Linked DNA regions of Homo sapiens: regions 2 and 3 are each linked to region 1. Evidence: fine-mapped expression QTL. A gene starts in region 1. Each other region holds a variant in brackets. All regions are shown on one strand. Distances are between the middles of the regions.

Evidence for each region. PIP is the estimated chance that this variant, and not a neighbour inherited with it, causes the effect.
Region 2: its variant is the best candidate, but not a certain one, in a credible set for the expression of SCPEP1 in blood mononuclear cells (TOPMed, PIP 0.66).
Region 3: its variant is the best candidate, but not a certain one, in a credible set for the expression of SCPEP1 in gastroesophageal junction (GTEx, PIP 0.63).

Annotation. Positions count from the first base shown.
Region 1 is chr17:56,975,539-56,982,004 of GRCh38, forward strand. It overlaps SCPEP1 (serine carboxypeptidase 1), which reads left to right and starts at 2,593. Exons shown (of 13, transcript NM_021626.3): 1 at 2,593-2,697; 2 at 5,544-5,692. The coding sequence starts at 2,622. LOC105371836 (a long non-coding RNA gene) reads left to right here. Exons shown (of 4, transcript XR_934875.4): 4 at 211-469. RefSeq lists a silencer at 2,476-2,535.
Region 2 is chr17:56,929,354-56,935,819 of GRCh38, forward strand. No RefSeq gene overlaps it. Among named protein-coding and RNA genes, the nearest start is that of TRIM25, 19 kb to the left of the region's middle. The variant G/A (reference allele first, on the strand shown) is at 3,634.
Region 3 is chr17:57,028,172-57,034,637 of GRCh38, forward strand. No RefSeq gene overlaps it. Among named protein-coding and RNA genes, the nearest start is that of SCPEP1, 53 kb to the left of the region's middle. The variant C/CG (reference allele first, on the strand shown) is at 3,248.

The DNA.
Region 1 (6,466 bases):
CTGTTTCCCCATTGCAATTCCCCTGCCTTCATAAATTGGCTGGCTCTATCTGGGCAGCAGGCAAAAAGAACCCATTGGGGGATTACATAGCCACTCCTCATCGGAGAAATTTCTACTGGCTCTTCTTCCAGCCTCAACTCTCTTTGGCTAATCTTTCTCTATATGTAGCCTTCACTTCTTTTCATCTTTCTCTCTTCTTTCCTCTCCTAGGAGCAAAACAAAATTTCTCCTGGGCCGCACAGTTTGGCAATTATCTTTTGTTGCCTTGGCTGCAGCTACTATGCCATCAGCTCCCAACTCCTAACTTCAATGAACCAAGGAGGTATTTTTCTTAAACAAAGACCACTCCAACCCTGAAGATTGGAATTTCGCCACTGCCTGTAAGGATAACAAGCTTTAATCTGGTTTCTACATGTGGTTTTTGTTTATTTTGTTCCTGTGATTATAAACTGTAATGAAAAAAGAAAATGTTACTGTAATACTTGATATCATGTATTTATCCATGTATCCAACCTTCTTTCCATCCTATCCATCAATCCATCTTATATTCTGGATACTTTTTTTTTTTTTAAGAGACATGGTCTCACTATATTGTCCAGGCTGGTCTCAAACTTCTAGGCTCAATCAATCATCCCACCTTGGTCTCCCAAAGAGCTGGATTACAGGCATAGGTCACTGTGCCAGCATCTGGATACATTTCAAAGAAAATTGTATACATTGGTACACCTTCCCCTAAACACTTTAATATGAATATCATTAACTAGAGGTGACATTTTATTTATATTTTTTCCTTTTGAAGTCATATTAGCGTATTATAAAATGCACAATTTTTTTGTGCGTGTGTGAGATGGGGTCTTACTCTGTCACCCAGGCTGGAGTGCAGTGGCACCATCTTGGCTCACTGCAACCTCCACCTCCTGGGTTCAAGCGATTCTCATGCCTTAGCCTCCCGAGTAGTTAAGACCACAAGCAAGTGCCACCACACCCAGCTAATTTTTGTATTTTTGTAGAAATGGGGTTTCACTATGTTGGCCAGGCTGGTCTCAAACCCCCGACCTCAAGTAATCTGCCCACCTCGGCCTCCCAAAGTGCTGGGATTACAGGTGTGAGCCACCTTGCGCCCTGGGCTGTAGTGTTATTTTTGTGGCAAAAAAATTGAAACCCTAAAATTCTGACTGCAGTGGAAGGGTAAGTGTATTTCAAGCCCTAGTGATACAGACCAACTTGGAAGCTTCAGACAGGAAAAGTTTGCTAGATAGTTATTTATTTTTAACTAAGCATGTACTTTTATGTATCTCCCATATGGCATGGAACACCTGCTCACTGCAGCCTGGAGCTCCTGGGCTCAAGTGATCCTCCCACCTCAGCCTTCTGAGTAGCTTGGACAGCAGGCGCGTGTCACCACATCAGTTAATTTTTGTTATTTTTTGTAGAGAGGGGGTCTCAATATGTTGCCCAGGCATTATGGATTTTATGCATTCGGGACCATCCCATGCTTAAAGCATGACAGAACCCGGCGGCATATTTTTCTCTGCCGCAGCTTTCAGTGCAGGGGCACCTCACAGGCAGGGCGGGGTCAAGGCTCTGTCCAGACAATGGCTGCAGAGTAAAAAGCACTTCCATTTATGGGGGTCAAGGGCGAGGGGAGGGAGAAAGGAGCAGGGAAAGAGGAGAAGTGGCCACATGTACTTTGATTTGTTTTTTGCTTTTTGTTACATGTACTTTTGAAGCAGTATTTAGAAGTAGCCTCTCCTACAGCCCCTGCTGTAGCTTGTCTCCTAGCTGTGAGGTGAGTTATTCAGTACCCTCTAACGTAAAAATGACCTTCAGACAGACAGACAGACACACACACACACACACACACACACACAGAGGAAAACAGCTCTGTCATCCACTTTTTCTTCCTTTCCCGTCCCCAGACCCTCGATTCTCTCTTTAAAATGACTGCTGTGAAGATAACGTAACACAGAGTAATACTAATGACAAATTATCAAAAAAGAAAAAAAAAATAAAAATCTTTATTAGTGTTTTTTAAAATGACGTAAAAGACTATGGGAAAAAATGCCAACAATAGTTATGTATAACTTTTTTGTTCATATTTCCAAAACGTTTATAACATACATAACTTTAAAAGAAAAATAATTTAAAAAATACATATCTGAAAATGAAACCCCGCTGTTTGCCAACGACCAGCTGGCTTAATCTGACTTCGCAGATGTAGCAGTGTTGGAAAACGTCGGTTCTTTTGCTGAGGGAAGGAAGAGATGGGAGGGGTAGAAAGGGCGGTGGTTATTCCCTTTAGTATTTCGATCCGGTCACACAACCTAAATCCAACATCTGCATCAAATGTCTCCTTTCCGAAATACTCTCCCTAAAATGACAGAGAACCTGGCCAGGCGGACAGAACGGCCCCTGCGCATTTGCAGGGGTCCTGGTGGGCTTGCCGGGCAGAGGGCGTGCGGGTCTCAGCAAGCTGCCGGGTCCGCCCAGGCCCCGCCCCATGCCCATTCAGGCCCCGCCCCCGACCCGCAGGCCCCGCCCCCGACCCGCCCCGTCCGCCTCCGTCACGTGATGGGGCGCCGGGTCCAGCCTGTTGCTGATGCTGCCGTGCGGTACTTGTCATGGAGCTGGCACTGCGGCGCTCTCCCGTCCCGCGGTGGTTGCTGCTGCTGCCGCTGCTGCTGGGCCTGAACGCAGGTAGGTTCAAGCAAGAGGCGCACCAGCTGCCATGCCTCTTTTTTCTCCAGGCGTGAGAGTTTGTTACTGGGTTTGTGCTTTTGAAAACATGTCTCTTTTCCCCGGTTCTTACCTTGTGTAATTATATTGCTTTTGAATCTCACTCTTTTTTTTTTTTTTCCTTAAAAAATTCAAAGTGCTTTTTTTGTCCTTTTCTGGCTCTGGGTGGTCTGAGTGCTTCCGTTCTCTCCTACGCCTAGATAGAAGCTGTGTGCAGAAATGTATGATTTGGGGAAACTGCTGGTCAATGAGGTTTCCCCGATTCAAAGGCCATGATTGGCTGCTAAATGAGGATATAAGGTCGTTTTATTTTAAGCTGAAATCTGCGGTCAAAAGTACCCTTACATCCTACCACGAATGGGACATTTCATTGAGATAAGGCCCTTTCTTTTCTTGATCAAAACAAACAAGATAACATCTTCCCCCACAGCGATCTTTTTTGGCAAAAAACAGATTTGTGTTTAATAGGATGACTTGCAAATTGATTTTCAGCAAAACCTCTCCTAGTCTGAAGCAAGCACTGAGAATTGGAACTGGCCACAAGCTTGCCTTGTGACCTTAGGCAAGTTGTTGAACAGTTTTGTTTTCCTTTTCTAAAATGGGGATCATCTGGCCCTTAGGCGAGTGTCTGGGAGATTTTGTAAAATAAGTAGCTCTGCCAATTTTACCAGTAGTCACTGCCAGGCAAGGGAGAAGTGCCTGGGGTTAGGTCAAAAGGTACCTGCGCCTTATCTGTCATTCTCAAGGGAGCGCAGCCTTATCTGTTATTGTCAAGGACAATATAATCGTGTGTTACTTGTATATAGAACCTTATAGCTAAGTCTGTAATGTTTTAGTCATCTGTTTTGCTCCTCAGGACACTTTCTGGTTTTCTTAATCTTCATTGTTGTTTTGTTTTGAGTCAGGGTCTCACTATGTTGCCCAGGCTGGTCTGGAACTGCCTGACTCAAGTGATCTTCCTACTTCAGCATCCCAAGTAGCCCGGACTGCAGACACAGGCCACCACCCTGGCTCTTTCTTATTTACAAGACGTTGTCTCATTGTCTTCCTCTCTACTCCTGTCTCTTTAGCTGTTGGGACCAGTGTTCTTTTACTGACCAATGGGGCTTGAAATTTGAGAAGGGAGGAAATAGAAGGCAGAAAACTCCAGTCACCGAGGGGATCCCCCCCATCATCTTTTAACAACAGCCCCTCTACTTTTTTTTTTCCCAGAGTGGTTTTGGAGGAAAAAAAAAAAGATGCTATAACTTGGAAATTGTTACGTTAGCAAAAAGTGACAAAGAAAATGTATTTAGCCTACTCTTTTCTAAAACATATTTTGTGGATGCTAGAAAAGTTAAGTAAGGAAAATTGGAGTTAGGGGATTATAGGATACGTATATTAAACACACATACACAGATATATATCGTTCAGTTTAAAAAAATCATCTACATGAGTTAGGAAAATTGCCCTTTTTCATATTTGTTGTAGCTCTTTCCTTGCTGTTTGCCTTTTTATTTTTGATTTACAGAAATTTTGTTGTATAGAAATATAACAAGTTTCTGTTCTCACCTCCATCATTGTTTCTTTTGTACAGTCTCTGGGGTTTGCTTAGATTCTTTCCTCATCCAGACATTAGAAATATATTTAACTATATTTTTGTATTTTTTTAATGTTTAAAGTTTAAAATTTAATTGCTTGATCCTCATGGAACTTATTTCGTTTATAGTGTTGAGAGGACCTAAATTTCTCTTTTTTTCTCCAAAAAAGGTAATTGTTGCTCCATTACTGTATATTGAATATTCTCAGCCCCACTAATTTGTGATGCCTCTTCACTCATGTTTTTTGTTTGTTTGGTTGGTTGGTTTTTTGTTTTTTTGAGATAGGATCTCCCTCTGTCACCTAGGCTGGAGTGCACTGGTGTGATCACAGCTCACTGCAGCCTCAACCTACTGGGCTCAAGCGATTCTCCTACCTCTGTCTCCTGAGTAGCTGGGACCACAGGCATATGCCACAATGCCCAGCTAATTTTTGCATTTTTTGTAGAGATGGGGTGTTGCTATGTTGCTTAGACTGGTTTTGAACTCCTATGCACAAGCTATCAGCCTGTCTTGGCCTTCCAAAGTGTTGGGATTACAGGAGTGAGCCACCAAGCCTGGTGTCTTACTCATGTATTAAATACGATATAAAAACCAGTATATTGCATTCTGAGATTTTTACTTTTTTACTCAAAATATAAATCTCTCTTGTTTTTACAGAATTATAAAAGTATTTCCTGTAATCCCAGCACTTTGGTAGGCCTAGGCGGGCAGATCACCTGAGGTCAGGAGTGCGAGACCAGCCTGACCAACATGGAGAAACCCCATCTCTACTAAAAATACAAAATTAGCCAGGCGTGGTGGTGCATGCCTGTAATCCTAGCTACTTGGAAGGCTGAGGCAGGAGAATCGCTTGAACCCGGAAGGCAGAGGTTGCGGTGAGCCGAGATTGCGCCATTGCATTCCAGCCTGGGCAACAAGAGCGAGACTTCGTATCAAAAAAAAAAAAAAAAAAAAAAAAGTGTTTCATATTTATTGTTAAAAATCCAAACATTACAGAAAAGTGTAGAGGAAAAAGTGAAAGCCCCTGGCCTCCTATGCCGCTGTTAAGTTTGGTTTCTTTTTTCATAGCCGAGGTTTTTTCCTTATTCCTGCAATGTACTGGGGTGGCTAAATTACCAAACTATAAAACAAATCATCTCTAGCCTAGCATGGCTGTCTCTACCAGGCTTGGAATTTACCTGTACATTAGGCACTCTTCTGGAGAGTGAAATTGAACTTCTGTTTCAGGAGCTGTCATTGACTGGCCCACAGAGGAGGGCAAGGAAGTATGGGATTATGTGACGGTCCGCAAGGATGCCTACATGTTCTGGTGGCTCTATTATGCCACCAACTCCTGCAAGAACTTCTCAGAACTGCCCCTGGTCATGTGGCTTCAGGTAAAGTAGCTTCCCAGCCTGGCCTGAGGTCAAAGCCAAGTCTCCTCTGTGTGGCTCTTTGCTTGCTTTTTGGGCTGATGTCTCAGCAGTGAAGGGCGGATTTGGTCCAGCAGTGTGACCTGGGGGTTCGGCGTGCTTCTGAGGTAGGCTGAGGCAATGGTATAGCCAAGGAGGCTAAATCAGAGGGCGAGGGGGTTCTAGCCTTTTGCCAGAGTCTCTTTATATTTCCAGACGGTCACAAGAAGGCTCACTGAAAACTCCTGATGATACATTTGAATACATAGTGATAGAAAGTGTTTTGAGGCCGGGCACAGTGGCTCATGTCTGTAATCCCAGAACTTTGGGAGGCCGAGGTGGGTGGATCATACGAGGCCAGGAGTTCGAGACCAGGCTGGCCGACATAGTGAAACGCTGTCTCTACTAAAAATATTTAATACAAAAATTATCCAGGCATGGTAGCACATACCTATAATCCCAGCTACTCAGATGGTTGAGGCATGAGAATTGCTTGGACCCGGGAGGCGGAGGTAGCAGTGAGCTGAGATCGTGCCACTGCGCTCCAGCCTGGGCGACAGAGCAAGACCCTATCTCAAAAGAAAAAAGAAAAGAAAGTGTTATGGAAGGTTCCAAAGCAAAGACCTGAGGTAGCCTGACCCTCCCTTCCTCTCCATACAATCCTTTCCTGAACCCTAACTTCTTACCCCCAGAAAACCTGATCTTTTGAAGGGACTGCTACAAGCCTTCTGCACCTTCGTGTGACTGTTGCGCCTTCCC
Region 2 (6,466 bases), 46 kb before region 1:
AGGAACAAAGAAATAAGAGAGATGTAAAGAAAGTTATGAAAATAAAGAGGGTTTTTTGGTAATCATTTAAAAAAGCTTAAAGAGAAATAATTTCATATGAGAAAGAATCTTGTGTGGTAAATTTAGTCCTAAAGTAAAATAACTGGTTGTTTAAGAAAGGGATGTTCAAGACAAACCAGAAAGTCCAAGCATGTCATGAATGGTCTGTATAAATCACAATAAGAGGATTTATAAAAACAAAAAAAAGTTTATATGATCAAGTTGTCATATTATTATTAAGCTTTGGTTTGCTTAGGGAAAAAATTGAGAATAAAATTTGTTTAAATTAAGGTTATTACATCTGTGTATCTCTCTGTATGCCCTTTTAAAGTACTTGTGACATTGAGTTACAGGGCTTTGACTCCTGGGTCCAAAAAGAACACCAAGTCTTGCTAAATCTTAAATACTGGCAGCAATTAAAGCCTCATCTTCAGGCCCAATAGAAGATGCTAATCAAAACAAACTGCATTCCTGAGACACAGGGCCAGAAATTAAAGCTATTCAACTCCTCAAGGCCCAGGGACTATTGCAGAAGAGGTGGGCATGTGAGATTGTAAGGGCTGATTTTGAGAGATAAAATAAGTTCAGTTTCTCTATAAATTAATCATTAATGTCAAAGGCACACTGATGCAAGACCAGCATATGGGCCCCTGTGTCAAATTAACAAGGTTTTCTTGAAGCATTAACCAACTCCTTATTAAAGGTTATAAAGGTTTATGGAAGTTATATCTTATGGTCAAGATAAAAATTTTATAGATTGCTTATAAAATTTTGGAAAAAAATTTAATTGTCTTCATGCCGTTTTTATTAGGGCTTATCATTTGGAAAATTAAGTCTCCTGTCTCAAAGAATGAAGGTTTTTGCCTTTTTAAAAAATCTTTGAATTATTACTTTGGTTAAATGAATGACTTATTTTACAATGGCCTGGGATCCTATTTTGTAATATCAAGTGTTTTAAACTTTTGGTATTTGACAAAGTTTCCAAAATTAAATGATAAATTATCTCTTTCTGACCTAAGTAACTCTTTAAGATATTAATAGGTTCCCTAAAGTCCAAAAATGACATATTTGGCTTACTTGGTATAAAAATTATACAGGAAGCATTGACAAATATGAAATGGTGTTTGGTTTTCTTTGGGCTGTATTTGTATAAATATGTTAGTCATATATGTTCCAAAATTATGGGAAACTCCTATAATACTGATATGACTTAATGTATGTTATCAGTAATAATTGTTACATTAAAGTATTACGTGCCACAGAAGTGACAGATTTCCTGTCAATTGTGTCTTTGACTATGGCTGCACTAAAACTTTTTGTCATCCACAGACAATTTTTGTCTTGTTTTGGTCCTCTTTAGAAGGTGGTTTTATAATCAGCTATAAAACTCTAATAGGTGCTCTTGAATGCAGGTTTCTGATAACTTTGGAGATTGTGACATCAGAATTAAGGAAAAACTTTCAGTACTCATGGAGAGCTTAAATGTTCATGAATATCACGCAGAACAGGAATTCACTGCATAGACTAAACTAATAGAAGTCTGAAGTAATCTTTTTAACTTTTTGCTTAAAGTGTTGCTGATCCTTTGTTTCGTTTTTCAGAATGAAGAAAACTTTTCTTTTAAGCTATTTACAGCTTTTAACAATTGAGTATGCACCCATGAACAAAATTTGGAGTCTATTTGTTTCTCTCTACCTGATTTCTACATAATTTGGAAACTGTGAGTGTTCTTAACTTATGACAATACAGTTATTTGCATAAGTGCAATAAGAATCTGTTTTAATTTGTAACAGGACACAACTGGAGAAACTAGTTATTTTACTAAGGCTTTGACTGGAATGGTGTGCTTTAAGGAATCAAACTTGACTTATAGAGCCAGTAGGAACCCCTTGGAAAAACTGGCCTCATACCTTTGTCTACAGTTCCTGTACAGGGTTTCTGACCTGTGATAAGTAAAGAATGTCACTTTCTGACAGGCCCAGGAGCACCAAGTTTATCTTGGAACCACAAGAGGAGAGGAATCACCCAACTCATAGGTATTTGATGGTACAAATCCATGGCCACGTTCAGCTTTTAAAAAGTCTTATCTGAGATTCCTTCTATGGAACAAAGTTCCATCAAAGCCAATTTAAAAGCCTATGTAAAAAAAAATTATCCTTGCTGCACTATATACAAATAATTAGGCCAAGTATAATAATGCAAATCAGTCCCATAATGATCTGTCTTTAGTAAAAATGGGAAACTGGAGAGAGAAAAATTGTTTCAAAAACTATAGTACACATGTTGCTAGATTCTAATCTTGCCTAATATTTTTCATTTTTATTATTTTTTACAGTTTGGACTGAATTCTAATTTTTCTTAGCTACAACTCTTCAAAATAATGTTTCCATTATTTTTCCTTTTTCCCCATTTTTCATAATTTGGAGTCAATAAAAACTAAGCTGTGCTTTTGTAAAGTTGTATGGCCAGGCACAGTGGCTCTTGCCTGTAATTCCAGCACTTTGGGAGGCTGAGGCGTGTGGACCACTTGAGGTCAAGAGTTCATGACCAGCCTGGCCAATGTGGTGAAACCCTATTTCTACTAAAAATACAAAAATTAGTCAAGCGTGGTGGTGCATGCCTGTAATCTTAGCTATTCAGGAGGCTGAGGCAGGAGAATCGCATGAACCTGGGAGGCAGAGGTTGCAGTGAGCCGAGATAGTGCCACTGCACTCCAGCCCGGATGTCTCAAAAAAAAAAAAGCAGCAGCTCCTTACCCATCAGTCCCTCTGCAGAGCAGTCAGTGACTATTATTACGTTTCATGCATGTCCTTCCAGAACATTTTTATCCATATCCTACATCAGGAGCCTTTTTTTTTTTTTGGAAAAAGTCTCACTCTTGTCACTCAGGCTGAAGTGCAGTGACATGGTGACAGCTCACTGCAGCCTCAACCTCCCAGGCTCAAGTGATTCTCCCACCTCAGCCTCCCAAGTAGCTAGGACTACAGGCATACCACCACACCCAAGGAGCTTCCTTTTAAAATTCAAATGAGAAATAAACTCTGTAAGTATATAATGTGCTATAATTTACTTTTTCACTTAATTCTGCACCTGTTTCTTTATGGGACATAGTGGTTGAGTACAAGTTCTGGAGAAGACAACCTGTGTTTGAATCAGGCTCTTTCATTCACTGTATTCATAGGCAAGGAGTTTAACCTCTGTGCCTCAGTTTCCTCTTCTGTGAAAGGGAGAAAATAACAGTACCTATCTCCTAAGTTATGTAAATGAATTAATACCTGTAAAGTGCTTGGAAAAACAGCTGGCACATAGCTACTGTCATTTCTACTCTCCAAAGCTTCCTTGTGATAATTTTCTTGTCTCCAGCTGTGGGTCTCCATCTGGGGCCACAGTGGCAGTGATGGCTTCTCCTATGCTGATGGTGGCCAGGCCAACATGATGGTAGGGATAGTCAGGGCTGGTCAGGGCATTCTGGTCCTAAACTACTAATTCCTTGCCCCTAAACCAACTGCTCTGTTGCAAAGCACTGGTATGCTCAAATGGCTCACATTACCTGCATTCCAAGACTTTGAGCTCTACAGCTCTGCTTACCCCAAT[G/A]TACCCTACAAATATCATTATTTTATTTTATTTTTTCAAGACAGTCTTTGCTCTGTCATTTAGGCTGGAGTGCAGTGGTGCAATCATAGCTCACTGCAGCCTTGACCTCTTGGGCTCAAGTGATCCTCCCACTGCAGCCTCCTGAGTAGCTGAAATTATAGGCACACACCACCAAGCCCAGCTAATTTGTTTCTATTTTTCTGTAGAGATGCGGTCTCGCTATGTGCCCAGGCTGGTCTGGAATACCTGGCCTCCAGCAATCCTCCCACCTCAGTCTCCCAGTGTTGGAATTACAGGCATGAGCCACTGCACCCTGTCCAGACATTACCTTAATTGCCAATTTTTTTTTTTTGAGACCGAGTTTCGCTCTGTCACCAGGCTGGAGTGCAGTGGCGTGATCTAATTGCCACATTTTATATGATGAAACCCTGCCAAAACCCTGTAAATGGTGTCTCTAAATCTGGTCCCTTATCATGTGGGTTTGTGTTACTGCAAGGTTAATAAAATGATTGAGGCGAGCATCTGCAGAAGACAGGAGGCAAACACCATTCCCACTATATCCCAACTGCATTCCTCTGGGGTTTCACTGTGCTTATTTTCCTGTAATCTCTCACTAATCCATCTGTGAATGACTTCTCTCTCCTGTTCAATTTAATAACCCCACAAAACTGGGTTGGGTTTTTTTGTTTTGTTTTTGTGACAGTCTCACTCTGTCGCCCAGGCTGGACCACGGTGGTGCCATCTCAGCTCACTGCAACCTCCGCCTCCCAGGTTCAAGCAATTCTCCTGCCTCAGCCTCCCGAGTAGCTGGGATTACAGGCACCCGCCACCATGCCCAGATAATTTTTGTATTTTTAGTAGATAGAGACAGGGTTTTGCCATGTTGGCCAGGCTGGCCTCATACTCCTGACCTCAGTGATCTGCCCACCTTGACTTCCCAAAGTGCTAGGGTTACAGGCATGAGCCACCACACCCAGCTGCTGTTGTCTTAATATAACCTCTTTGAAAGTGGGATCATTTGTTTTAAGTGGCTAGAGCAGTGGGAAGAAAGCTATGTCAATTCAACATCAGAAGACACAACGGTTAGGAGACAATGGATGAATGTAGTCAGCAGAAATCTTCCAAGCCCTACAAGATAAAAGTATCTCTGATGAGAAATAGGTGACTGATTTCCTCCTACCCAAAGATGTAACTAGAGTTTAAATATGGCAGCTACATGAAATGTGGCACACATTGTTTGTAACAGATGAAAATAAATTTAAAAGGATGGGATGCAAGTTCTGCTGAAAATTTGGAGCAGGACCTTAGGCAAGTCACAAAATAGAAACATAAATAATAACATCTCATGCGCACTTAACGATGTACAAGGTCTTGTGCTAACTGCTTTGCATGCATCATCTCATTCCGTCCTCACCACACTACTGTTGGTGGGTACATTGATGAGGAAATTGAGGCTTAGAGGGGTTAGAACTTGCCTAAGGTGAAGTGACTAAGACCAAAGCAGAATTTGCACCTGGGTCATCACTGTGGCAGCCACATTCTAACCACTCACCATCTCTGTGATGTCATCTCCTCTTGAGTCTGTTGTCTCAGAAGTAAAGTGGAGGGTGGGGCTTCTTTATTTGGAAGGTGGCTTCTGGTTTTAACATTATAAGACCTTCCAATGGCCATAAGATCGGGTGCCTAAATTCCAGTTGAGACTCACTGTTTAGACCACTGCATTATTTCCTCATTGAGTCCATCAGAACACGGGAGATCCCAGCAGTAGATCCTTAAGTCATTTAATTAAAAAAAAAAAAGAACACGGGAGAGACATATTCTCATGGCTATCACATTCTCATGGGTACACCTGGTTGTTTCATGCACTGGGTGTTGATTGCACTCTTATATTTAGGCTGTGAACCTTTAGAGTGAACAACTATTTGAGGCAGGATGCAAATACCCTTTTGATTAAATTAATGTAACTTTTGCAGGCTGGGTGCGGTGGCTCATATCTGTAATCCAAGCACTTTGGGAGGCCGAAGTGAGCAGATCACTTGAGGCCAGGAGTTGCAGACCAGCCTGGCCAACATAGTGAAACCTGGTCTCTACTACAAATACAAAAAAAAGCCAGGTGCAATGGCGCACACCTGTAGTCCCAGCTGCTCAGGAGGCTGAGGCATCAAAATCGCTTGAGCCTGGGAGGCGGAGGTTGCAGTGAGCTGAAACCGTGCCACTGCACTCCAGCCTGGGTGACAGAGCAAGACTCTGTCTCAAAATATATATAACTTTTGCAAAGTGAAATGAATCCATCATAAGAATACCCCATGCTAATAACTCAGTCATTATTCTTTTTCTGAATATTAATGAGTTGAACTTTATTAATCACCCTCTTTTGAGTCTGATTAGAGGCTTAAGAGTAGATCAATACTTCTGCACATCTGCTGTGTGCCAGGGTCTAGTCTAGCATGATTTTAATTTTTCACTATAAGTCTGAGCATGGGTTAGGCCCATGCTGCAAATGAAGACACTCACCCTAGGTAACCTGGCTCAGATGTGGACCCAAATCTGACTTCAAAACCTGTTTTCTTTCCACGATGTCAGTGGTTCTCCAAGTGTGGTCTATGGACTCTTGCCCTCAAGACCCTTTTAGGGATCTGCAAGGTCAAAGCTACTATGATTATGTTGTCTTTTCACAGCATTGATGTTTGCTCTGATGGAGCAAAACCAATACGGAATGAACTGCTGCACTTCAGCATAAATCTGCTAGTGAGTGGCACCACTGGGCCACGCACTCATAGTAAGGGGCAAAGCCAACTGCCCTTAATATCCTTGATAGAGTAACAATTATTAA
Region 3 (6,466 bases), 53 kb after region 1:
GTATTCCCCCATAACTGCCATTAGCTATCCCCAAAAGTATATTCCTACCCAGTTGTTATACTAGGTAAAGCTTATACCAAAGCTCTCTAATAATGTAAAGTAATTTCTGATACCCCAAAAAGTTAAAAATATCAGATAATGCAATGCAAAACAGGACAAAGCCTTAGATTTTGAGAGGAATCTACCCACTTTTATTTCCTGGGTTTCCATGAAGACAATAGACATTTTTCCCCAAATGGGATCTGTGGTGCCTCCTATTACTGCAACCTGTTTTATCAGAAAGGTCTTTATGACCTGTGTCTCGTGCTGACCTCCTGTCTCATCCTCTGACTAAGAATGCCTTAACCTCCTGGGAATGCAGCCCAGAAGGTCTCAGCCTTATTTCATCCAGTCCCTATTCAAGATGGAGTCGTTCTGGTTCAAACACCTCTCACAGCACCTCAGTCTCTCTCTTGCTCCTGCTCTGGCCATGTGAGGTGCCTGCTCCCCCTTCACCTTCACCATGACTGTAAGTTTCCTGAGGCCTCCCAAGAAGCCGAGCAGATGCCAGCACCATGCTACCTGTATAACATGCAGAACCATGAGCCAATTAAACCTCTTTTCTTTACACATTACCCAGTCTCAGGTATTTCTTTTTTTTTTTTTTTTTGAGACGGAGTCTCACTCTGTTGCCCAGGGTGGAGTGCAGTGGTGCGATCTCGGCTCATTGCAAGCTCTGCCTCCAGGGTTTATGCCATTCTCCTGCCTCAGCCTCCCGAAGTGCTGGGACTACAGGCGCCCACCACCACGCCTGGCTAATTTTTTGTATTTTTAGTAGAGATGGGGTTTCACCGTGTTAGCCAGGATGGTCTCGATCTCCTGACCTCGTGATCCGCCCACCTCGGCCTCCCAATCAGGTATTTCTTTATAGCAATGTGAGAATGGACTAACAAACATTACCTGAGTTCTGTGAGCTGTTTTAGCAAATGATTAAACTCAAGAAAGGGATCATGGGACCCTCTGACTCATAGCCTGTCAGAAGCACCAGGTGACAAGCTGGACTTTTGATTGGCAACCGACTGTGGGGTAGGTACTAACTTCAGATAGATCATGTCAGAACTGAATTGAATTGTAGGATACCCAGCTGGTATCTCCAGAGAATTGGAGAATTGCTTGGTATAGGAACCCCTGCTACACACACACATCTGGTGTCACAAGTGAAGTACTGAGTTTTTCCTTTCGTTGTGAAGAAGAAAACCCTTTTTATTCTAAATGCCTTGTGTTTGGTGTCATTGAAGCTACATAGTGTCTTAGTTCTTTCCGGCTGCTATAACAAAATTACCTTAGACTAGGGCATTTATAAATGACAGAAATTTATTCCTCATAGTTCTGGAGTCTGGAAAGTGCAAAATCAAGATGCCAGCAGGTTTGGTGTCTGGTGAGGGCCCTTTCATGAGGGTTCCGCTCCCATTAACCACTCCTAAAGGCCCTATTTCTTTTTTTTTTTAATTATTTTTTTGTAGAGGGTCTCACTATTTTGACTAGGCTGGTCTCAAGTTTCTGGCTTCAAGCAATTCTCCCACCTCGGCCGCCCAAAGTGCTGAGATTACAGGCAAGAGGCACTTGTGCCAGTCCCATTTCTTTTTCTTTTTCTTTTTTGAGATGGAGTTTCACTCTTGTTGCCCAGGCTGGAGTGCAATGGCACGATCTCAGCTCACCACAACCTCTGCTTTTGGGGTTCAAGTGATTCTTCTGCCTCAGCCTCCAGAATAGCTGGGATTACAAGCATGCTCCACCATGCCTGGCTAATTTTTTGTTGAGATGGGCTTTCTCCATGTTGGTCAGGCTGGTCTCAAACTCCCGACCTCAGGTGATCCACCTGCCTCAGCCTCCCAAAGTGCTGGGATTACAGGTGTGAGCCACTGCCCCTGGCCCCTAGCCCCACTTCTTTAGTACTATCCCATAGGCAATTAGGTTCCAATATATGGGGAGATAGGACATTTCTGCTGGGCTTGAACACCTACATTTTTAAAATAAAATTTAAAAACAACCATAATACCATCATCACTCCCCTACTACCCCCCAAGTGAAAAATATCTTAGTATCATCAAATATCCAAAGCCCACGTAGACTACAAATTTATTTCCACCAATTCAAATTCCTGGGCTGGAGCATCTGATTAGTGGGTCTACAGGACTACTCTGTATCTACCAAGGAGGAGAGAGAGGAAAGGTATAACCTCATTGAGGCCCCAATAGCTTCTCATCAGAGGATTCTGCCTGATGCTGGCAAGACAAAAAAAAAAAAAGAGTTTTGCCAGGCGCGGTGGCTCACATCTGTAATCTCAACACTTTGGAAGGCTGAGGCAGGTGGATTGCTTAAGTCTAGGAGTTCAAGACCAGCCTGGGCAACATAGGGAGACCCCATTTCTACAAAAAATTTTTAAAATTAGCCAGGCATGGTGGTGAGCACCTATAGTCCCAGCTACTCAAGGAGGCTGACGTGGGAGAATCGCTTGAGCCTGGGAGGTCAAGGTAGTGAGCCACGATCATGCCACTATACTCCAGCCTGGACAACTAAGTGAGGCTCTTCCCCCGCTCCAAAAAAAAAGAAAAAAAAAAAAAGAAATGACTTCCCATTACAAGTGGTGTCAGCAATAATGCAGAAGAGAGGGAATGGCCAGAAAAGCTTTTGGACAGGAGGTCAGATTAAACTGAGCTCTATGAGATGGGTAGAGTATAGGTATCTAGAGATGGGTAGAGTGTAGGTACCTAAAGATGGGTAAAGTGTAGGTAACTAGAGAGACTAGAGGATAGGATATTTTTTATTTTATTTTTCCTTCTTTGTGATGGAGTTTCACTCTTGTTGCCGAGGCTGGAGTGCCATGGCGCCATCTCGGTCCACTGCAACCTCTGCCTCCCGGGTTCAAGCAATTCTTCTGCCCCAGCCTCCAGAGTAGCTGGGATTACAAGCATGTGCCACCACAACCAGCTAATGTTATATTTTTAGTAGAGACAGTTTTCACCATGTTGGCCAGGCCGGTCTCAAACTCCTAACCTCAGGTGATCCACCCGTCTTGGCCTCCCAAAGTGCTGGGATTACAGGCATGAGCCACCACGCCCAGCAATATTTTTTATTTCTAATAAAATAATAAGTGTAATAGTAACAAAATTTAGAAAATAAAGAAATGTAGGAAAATAGTTATTAAAAGTCTCATTACCCAAAAAAGTCATTTGGCTTAATTCATATCCCTATATTTTTTATTTAA[C/CG]GGGCATTATAAGAATTTATCTATGTTACTGTGGGTTCTTTGTCAGTATAATTTTTTTTTAAAGAGAGAAGGTCTTGCTCTGTTGTCCAAGCTGGAGAACAGAGTGCAGTGGTATGGTCATAGCTCACAGCAGCCTTGAACCTCTGTGCTCAAGTGATCCTTCTGCCTCAGCCTCCTGCATAGCTGGGACTACAGGTGCCACCACCACACCCCGCTAATTTTTCAATTTTTTGTAGAGACAAAGTCTCATTTTGTTTCCCAGACTGGTGTTGAACTCCTGGCCTCAAGTGACCCTCCTGCCTTGGCCTCCTGAAGGGCTGGGATTACAGGCCTGAGCCACTGTGTCTGGCCTTGTAAATATCATTTTTTAACAGATACATAATATTCCATTAAGAAAATGTTCTACACTTCATCTGACCAGTCCTCCATATTTTGACATTTATTCAAATTTCAGTTTTTCTTTTCTTTTTTTTTTTTTTTTTCAGACAGGGTCTCATTCTGTCACCCAGCTGGAGTGCAGTGGTGCCATCTTGGCTCACTGCAACCTCGACATCCCTGGCTCATGTGATCTTCTCACCTCAGCTTCCCAAGTAGCTGGGATTACAAGTGTGCACCACCATGCCTGGCTTATTTTTTAAATTTTTTTTGTAGAGACAGGGTTTCACCATGTTGCCCAGACTGATCTCAAACTCCTGGGCTCTAGCAATCGCCCACCTGGGCCTCTCAAAGTGTCATTTCAGTTTTTCTGATTATAAATAACTGTGATGAACATTATTTTGCTTAAAGCTTTTTCTGGTTTTAGAGTTATTTAATTACTATGGACTCCCAAAAGCAAAATTCTGGTAAAATGTTGTATAAATATTATAAAGAGTGGGGGTATTTCTGATACTGATTTTATACCACCTTATATTGTTATTTAGTAATCTCAAGAGGTGTTTCAAATTCTCAAGGCAAAATTGATAGAAATTGGTAAATTTTAAGACCATAGGCCCTAGGGTGTATAGCATAGAGGCAGAATTTTTAACTGCGCACACAGCGATCCAGAAAAAAAAAAAAAAATACTACATTTCCCAGCAGTTAAGTGTGGCCACGTGACTACGTTCTGGCCACCGGGATATAAACAGAAGTGTTCTGGCAGCAGCTGGAAACCGTCCCCTTTGGTGTACCTTTTGTTCCCTTTCACCCTCTTTTATTTTGCTGGCTGGAATGTGAATGCAACCATTTGGGATCATGGTAGGAAGATATGCTAGAATGAGCCGAGGTCCCCGAGGATTTTGAGGACTGGAGCCACCATTCCACCTTTGTACTCCTTTTCTCTCTTTACATGGAAATAAATTTTTGTCTTAAGCTACTGTTGGTTTGGGTTTTCTACCACTTACAGCCATGCCTAATTCTGACTAAATACAATGTGGTTTTAAAACTGGGACAGGCATTGTTATACTCTTCTTCATAAGCCCAGAGTAGCTGAGAAATGTTGCCATGGGAAAAAAACATTACAGGCCGGGCACGGTGGCTCATGCCTGTAATCCCAACACTTTGGGAGGCCGAGCTGGCAGATCACCTGAGGTCAGGAGTTCGAGACCAGCCTGGCCAACATGGTCAAACCCCGTCTCTATTAAGAATACAAAAATTAGCTGGGTGTGCTGGCAGGTGCCTGTAATCCCAGCTACTCAGGAGGAGGGTGAGGCAGGAGAATCACTTGAACCTGGGAGGCGGAGATTGCAGTGAGCCGAGACCGTGCCACTGCACTCCAGCCTGGGCAACAAGAGCAAAACTCCGTCTCAAAAAAAAAAAAAAAAAAAAATTTCAAATGTACTTTGAGATCAGGTCACGAGGAGGTTTGACTTTTTAAGTGTTCCTGATTCTAACAGAAAAGAAAACATTAGTGTCAGCAGCAGGAAATTTCAAGTAAAACTATAGGATTCGTGACGTCCAACTTCTAATTTAGTTGCTTCAAGTGTAAAGGCAAAAAGGAGTTGTGGGGTAGAGGGGAGAAAACTGGTTTGTCTTGTTTCCAAGGATTACTGCCCCTACTTCAAGAGCTATTAAAAGGTCCTCTTGAGAGAACTGTAACCAAAAATAAAGTGGCACTGGCAACTCTCTGGGAACACATTTAACTCTGCTCGTAGAAGCATAGCCTGTTTTAATTGGCTAAAGCCCAAGCCAGGCCCTGTTTTCATCTGAATTAGGAAAAAGCAACTGCTGAGAAAATATTTAAAAATAACTATACCAATGTAAAAAAGCAAAGAAAAAAAAAAAACAAACAAAACCCCAAAACCCTAAATTAAAAGAACATGTGTTCGAATGTACTTGGTTAAAGCCAGATGCAGTGGCTCGCACCTGTAATCCCAGCCCTTTGGGAGGCCAACATGGAGGATCGCTTGAGCTCAGGAGTTCAAGACCAGCCTGGGCAACATAGGGAGACCCTCTCTCTATTTATTTTAATTTTTTTTAAACAATGTACTTAAAGTAAATCAAATCTGGTGAAGACACAGATGCTTTGGGGCTCAGATCTATATGTTAGGATTGGGAATTTGTATTTTTGTTTCTCAAAAGTGGTCACTGACTGGGTACAATGGCTCAGACATGTAACCTCAGCACTTTGGGAGGCCAAGGTGGGAGGATCATTTGAGCCCAGGAGTTCTAGACCAGCCTGGGCAATATAGTGAGATCCTATCTCTACAAATAAAAATAAAAATAAAAATAAAAATAAAAAAAATGCCAGGCATGGTGGTGCATGCTTGTAGTTCCAGTTACTTAAGAGTGTGGGGTGGGAGAATCACTTGAGCCCAGGAAGTTGAGGCTGCAGTGAGCTATGATCATGCCACTGCACTGCAACCTGGGTGACAGAGTGAGACCCTGTCTCAAAACAAAAGAAAAATGTGGTCACTTCAGGGGGCAGTGAAGTAAGTGCAATATTTTGCTGTGATGTTTACAAGCAATCTTGGTATTTGATCTTTTCTGCCATTAGAATTTGTCAGCCAAGCTGGGCACAGTGGCTCATGCCTGGAATCCCAGCACTTTGGGAGGCCAAGGTGGGAGGATCGCTTGAGCCAAGGAGTTATAGACAAGCCTGGGCAACACGGTGAAACCCTGCCTCTACAAAAAAAAAAACAAAAATTAGCCAAGTATGGTGGTGCATGCCTGTAGTCCTAATTACTTGGGAGGCTGAGGTGGGAGGACCACGTGAGCTGTGATGGCACCGCTGCATCTAGCCTG